Linked DNA regions of Homo sapiens: region 1 is linked to region 2. Evidence: fine-mapped expression QTL. A gene starts in region 2. The other region holds a variant in brackets. All regions are shown on one strand. Distances are from middle to middle.

The links. PIP is the estimated chance that this variant, and not a neighbour inherited with it, causes the effect.
Region 1: its variant is fine-mapped to the expression of HECW1 in skeletal muscle (GTEx, PIP above 0.99). The same link has a PIP of 0.9 or more in lung and thyroid.

Annotation. Positions count from the first base shown.
Region 1 is chr7:43,247,347-43,250,248 of GRCh38, forward strand. The region is part of intron 3 of HECW1 (HECT, C2 and WW domain containing E3 ubiquitin protein ligase 1); the gene reads left to right. LOC124901619 (a long non-coding RNA gene) reads right to left here and starts at 1,952. Exons shown (of 2, transcript XR_007060295.1): 1 at 1,837-1,952. The variant T/G (reference allele first, on the strand shown) is at 1,568.
Region 2 is chr7:43,111,096-43,113,997 of GRCh38, forward strand. It overlaps HECW1 (HECT, C2 and WW domain containing E3 ubiquitin protein ligase 1), which reads left to right and starts at 1,552. Exons shown (of 30, transcript NM_015052.5): 1 at 1,552-1,842.

The DNA.
Region 1 (2,902 bases), 140 kb after region 2:
ATGTCGAAAGTGAAGCCCAGACCAGGCACAGTGGCTCATGCCTGTAATCCAGCACTTTGGGAGGGGGATAGCGGGAGGATAGCTTGAGACCAGTCTATATAAGCCTGGGCAACATGGTGAGACCCCATCTCTAATAAAAATAAAATTTTAGCCAGGCATGGCAGTGCACCTGCAGTCACAGTTACTCTGGTGGTTGAGGCAGAATTGCTTGAGCCCAGGAGTTAGAGGCTGCAGTGGGCTATAATCGTGCCATTGCACTCCAGCCTAGGCAACAGAGCAAGATGCTATGGAAGGAAAGAAAGAGAGAGAGAGAGGAAGGAAGGGGAGAGGGAGGGAGGGAGGGAGGAAGGAAGGGGAGAGGGAGGGAGGGAAGAAGGAAGGAAGAAAGGAAGGAAGGAGGGAGGGAGGAAGGGAAAGAGAGGAAAAAAGAGAGAGAAAAAAAGAAAAGAAGGAGGGAAGGAAAGAAAAGAAAGAGAGAGAAAGGTAAGAAGGAAGGAAGAAGGAAGGAAGGAAAGAAAGAAGAAAGCAAGCAAGAAAGGGAGGGAGAGAGGAAGGAAGGAAGGAGGGAGGAAGGGAAAGAGGAAAAAAGAGAGAGAAAAAAGGAGGGAAGGAAAGAAAAAGAGAAAGGAAAGAAGGAAGGAAGAAGGAAGGAAGGAAAGAAAGAGAGAAAGAAGAAAGCAAGCAAGAAGGGAGGGAGGGAGAGAGGAAGGAAGGAAGGGAGGGAGGGAGGGAAAACAATGGAGAGAGGGAGGGAAGAGAAAGACAAAGGAGAGGAGGAGAGGTGAGGAGAGGAGAGAAAGAAGAAGAAAGAGAGAGGAGCCCAGAGAGGTTGTGTGTCATCAGAGATCACCCAGAGATCGCAGGGCTGAGGTGGAGCCCCAGGGCTCCTGACAGCAACACCCCTCTCCTGACACAGAATGGGCATTGTTACATCAGTCTCCTTCACCCCATACTCTACACAATAAAGAAAATCTGTGGCTCCAGAACTTTTATGTTCTTGCTTAAATCTTCCAAACTGAAAACGATCCTGAGGTTCCCTACACCATACCCCGCCCCACCACATCCTTCATCTAGACACATCCTGGGTCTAGAACGTATCAGGAGACAGAGGTGTAGAACCACAGCCAGCTTCCCTAAACTTCCACTAATCTCCGGCTTGCTTTTGGTTATAATGTTGTGCAGATATAAATTGACAAAGTCATGAGAAGCCTCTCTTCTAACTCTGCAGTTTGTCATCCTGACACCAACAGAAAATCAGGACATCATTAATTCTCTACACTTATTGATTTGGAACCTCCATTGTAAGGCCGGCTGCTTTACTCTCCCTCCTCCTCCTCCTCCTCCTCCTTTTCCTCCTCCTCCTCCTCCTCCTCCTCCTCCTTTTCCTCCTCCTTCTCCTGTCCCTCTTCCCCCATCTCCCCGTTCTCCTCCTGTTTCCCCTCCCCCTCCTCATAGTTTTCAGGGTCGGAGTCCTAGGCCACTCTATTGCAACAGCTACCAAAGAGAAAGGGGCTGAATCTGTGTGCATGTGAGGCCACAACCTCTAGACCCCAGTGACTTAGGGGCC[T/G]CCCTGCCTCCCCTCTAGCTCTTCGCCAGTCATTGCCTGAACTCGGCTTTCCTGGACCTTAGGGGATAAATAGTGTGGTCCAGCACTGCCCTGGGTGAGCTGAGTCATGCCCTTGGCAGGGTCGAGGAGCTCCCGTGAGGAGACCAATCGCCTAGCGTGAGTCTTCTTCCGGGATTGCTCGCCCTCTGCCCCCTAGGTGCCGGGCGCCGCCCGTCCCCACCTCCATCAGAACTCGGGTCATCTGCGGAGCCTTGGCTGCGGCCCGGTACCTGGGTGTGACTCCGCCACTAACATTTTCCCAGCAGGAAGCAGCAAGCTCAGCACAGAAATAAAACTGTCCTGGTGAGTCGCTCACAGCCTGTCCCAGTAACTGTTCCGGAGCGTCAGCCTGACGCAGCACCCCTGAAGGACCACGCCGTGCGGGCTGCGAGCCTCGCCCTTAACCATGCCCAGCAGGACCAGAGCTGCCAGCACAAATGAAGGTCCTGGCCATTGAACAACTTCTGAGCCTGCACTTTAAGAAGGCGCTCTTGTTTTGAATACGTAGTCTGTCCTGTTCTTTCAAAGTAAGTGCTTTTATCAAGGGCCTGGACTGTCTTTTAAACATATTTTTTTCTCACTTGTACATTAAAGGGAAATGTATTTCTGTCTAGAAAAGGAGACCGGGAGAGGAATGAGACTGTGCGGTATTCAGGCTTGGTTTAAACTAGGGCATGCACACTGCATAGCTATTTTCTTCAGGCAGCATGTGGCCAAAAAACATGCGTGTGTAGCTGACTGTTTTGAGCTTTGTTTATTTTAAGTACTGTATACTGAGGGATTTTGTTCAAGCAAAGGAGTACCAGCTTTATATGCAGCCACAGATGCCTCTCTTGCTTGGTAGTGCTAGATTTAGAGCTCAAAATTTTCCTTTTCAGCAAGAACTAGAAGTTCCCTAGTAGTATTTTTTCCCCTCATGCCTGTTTGCACTGTGCAGAATTCTTAGAGAACACGGCTTTGCAAATGTTCTGCGGCAGTCTCAGGATAGCACGGTATGTCAGCAGATATGGGTCCCGGGCCTGTTTGCTTAGCTATGCTTTCTTAATGCAGGTTCTTGCTTTACACGATTTCAGACAATAACTCAGTATTTTCATGATCACAGCTGAATATACGCCACGGATGGATGTGTATTTTTCTTCCTCTCTTGCAGATTTTTTTTAACCAAAACACACACACACACACGCGCACACACACATACACACACACACAGAAATACAAAATAAAACTGGATTTGGTAGCATTGTATTTGTCTTAAAATTCTGGATAGGGATTATGCTGGGTCACTCTGGTCCACAG
Region 2 (2,902 bases):
CTGATTCACTGAAAATAATGAGGTGAACATCCTGGCAATTAGTTGAGGTAAAAAAATTATCCTTTATTGTGGTTTGGTGACATTGTGCTAATTTAGAAACCATGGATGCTGGTTTATGTGAAAGTTTTTGTTTTCTTTCAAGTCTCTGGTTGGAAACATCACATGGTTGGTTGCTGTTGCTGTTTACTGCCACAGCCTGTTCAAGTCTATTCTCGGAGAGTTTTCTTCATATAGGAGTTGGTACTAATCCAAGTGTAAAATCCGGAGAAATGTGTGCACAGCTTTCTGTGTGGATTCTTAGCTAAGGTTTGAAAATGGTCTGCTTTGAGCTCATCTGACCAGAAGATCTGACTGCTGTCAGGCAAAGAAAAGGGTCTGTCAGGAAAGGACTGGGCACCCCAAGTGGAATACGGAAAGAGAAGGGCTGTGCCTCCTTGCAGAAAAGAGCACAGCTGGTGAAGCTGCCTTCACATCGTCCAAAGTTTCCAGTTCTGGAAAGTTCCAGTTGTAAGAGTGAAATCAATGCCAAGAGGCAGGTCAGTGGAATGAGAGGCACTGAGAAACTAGCCACTGTGGGTGGAAGGGGAAGGAGATTTGGTTTTGACAAGTCCGTACTCAGGTCTTCAGTAAGGAGTTCTGAAGTCAGGGTGAAGCCTTTGTTTATTCTAGAGGAGGCGGAGTTTGGGGTCTGGGAAAGAAGATAACTTCTCAGAAAGTGAAAAAAAGCTCATGTAGAGGATGCTGGGCAAAATAATGGGAAGGAATAAATCAGCATTGTAGAGAATGTGGTTGGATCATAAAATCCCAGGCTATAGAGATTATGTGCTCAAAGCCTCTGCATTTTATGTGAACACACACAAACCAAATGTCGACCAGATGCACAAAAATGTGCATACATGGAGCAGCCAACCACCAATAGTAACCAGCATTTCACTTCTCTTTGCATCTCAGTTGGCTGTACCTGGAAGGGTCTAGACTTTGCCTCCTTCTCGTTCTAGCATTCTGACACTGTGTGCAGTGTAATAGAAAACGCGGTTTGGGAGCTAGGTTTGCCCAACAATAGATATTCTGGGGTGATTTTCATCCTTTGCATTTGTCATTACGATGTTTTGTGTGCTTGTGCAAATACAGGACGGTTCCTGAAATGTGTCTCTGAGCGTTCTTAACTGTGTGTAAGGTAAGCGAGGAAAGTGTCTAAGACAGAGGCCAAGAACACCTGTCACAGGGTACCCGCCTAGAGTGTCTGTACCGCATCCTTTCTGCTACACTGTTTGCACACACACAAAAGGGCCGAGGAGCCAGGGTTGGTGTTGGATATGCCCAGTACGCGTGCTGGGTGTTGGAAGGATGGGGCCGGCGGTAACAAGAATCGATATATATTTACCGCGGGGGCGGGGGTGGGGGTGCGCGGAGGCTGCAGGGCGGGGCAGCGCTAATGAGAGCAAGCCCGGCTTGTGGTTGGTTCTGGAGTCTGGTACCCACAGAGGAGCAGGCAGGGAGGGAGGGGATGCAAGCGGGAGGATAAAGCGATGAAGTGTGCTGCGTTACCGCGCATCAGGCGCTGTTGTTGGAGCCGGAACACCGTGCGACTCTGACCGAACCGGCCCCCTCCTCGCGCACACACTCGCCGAGCCGCGCGCGCCCCTCCGCCGTGACAGTGGCCGTGGCCTCCGCTCTCTCGGGGCACCCGGCAGCCAGAGCGCAGCGAGAGCGGGCGGTCGCCAGGGTCCCCTCCCCAGCCAGTCCCAGGCGCCCGGTGCACTATGCGGGGCACGTGCGCCCCCCAGCTCTAATCTGCGCGCTGACAGGAGCATGATCTGTGCCCAGGCCAGGGCTGCCAAGGTAAGCGGGCGTAGCGCGGGGACACTGTCTGCCGCCCCTTCCCCCCCGCCCTTCTCTGGGCGGCTTCCCCGCCGCACGCGAGGCCCCGGCAGCGCCCTCCCTTCTCGGGGCCGAGATCCACCCTCCTCCCCACCCTCTCGCTTCTCCCGCGAGGTTCAATTGTCAGCCTGGGTCGCGCCGCCGCCCGGTCCGGGCCGGCATCCCCGGGTGGCGACCCCGGCTTGGGTACTGCAGGCGCACCCGGCCCTCCTGCGGGGTACGGAGAGAAACAAAGAAGCCCCCAAGCGGGTTCGCAGCGCCTCCCCCGCCCCTCAGCGCCCTCCCAGTGGCGAGGAGGTGTCAGGGGAGGGGGCGGAGAGACCTACGTAATCCCCCTTCCCAGCCCACACCCACCCCTTGTGAACCAAAGCTCTGGATTTGCGCTTCGCCTTGGGCTCGCTTTTGAACAATTGTGTCCCATGCAATGCCCGTGGTTAGCCCAGAGAGCGCCCAGAGCCTCCGCACGGGCTCGCCGGTGCTCGCTCGAGGGGCGCGTGGCCAGGTCCGGCCCTTGCTCCCATGGACGGGTGCAGGAGGGGAGGAGGCGCTGTGTGGGTGCTCCCCCAGCGCCTCCCTGTTACCGGCCGGCTGCGCCGCTCAGCCGGGCCTGCCACCTGAGTTTTAGCGGGAGCAGTCATGTCGCCTACCGTATTGCGACTTGCAGACAGGCAGGGAGGGAGCTGCCGGGGCGGGGAGGGGGGGGGAATGCGTCCGGTCCATTTTTGGCTGGAGGTGCGCTTCCTGCTACCCCCACGTTCCCGGGCGGTGACAATGCAGCAAAATCCGAGGGCTCAAACAATGTGGCCCCTCCATCCCCGGCTCCAGGGCATTCTGATTGCTCTGCCGCTTTGACGTCCCGGCCACTTGGCTGATTTTCAGAGCCATGATGCGCGGTGTCTCTGTCTTGCACACAGAGGCTGGGCACCATAACTTCTTCCCTGCCGAATTTCAGCGCGTAGGGGGAGCTGGCAGGGACACAGGCTGCAGAGATGCCCGGCTTCCTGTGGTTCCGGGCACAGCG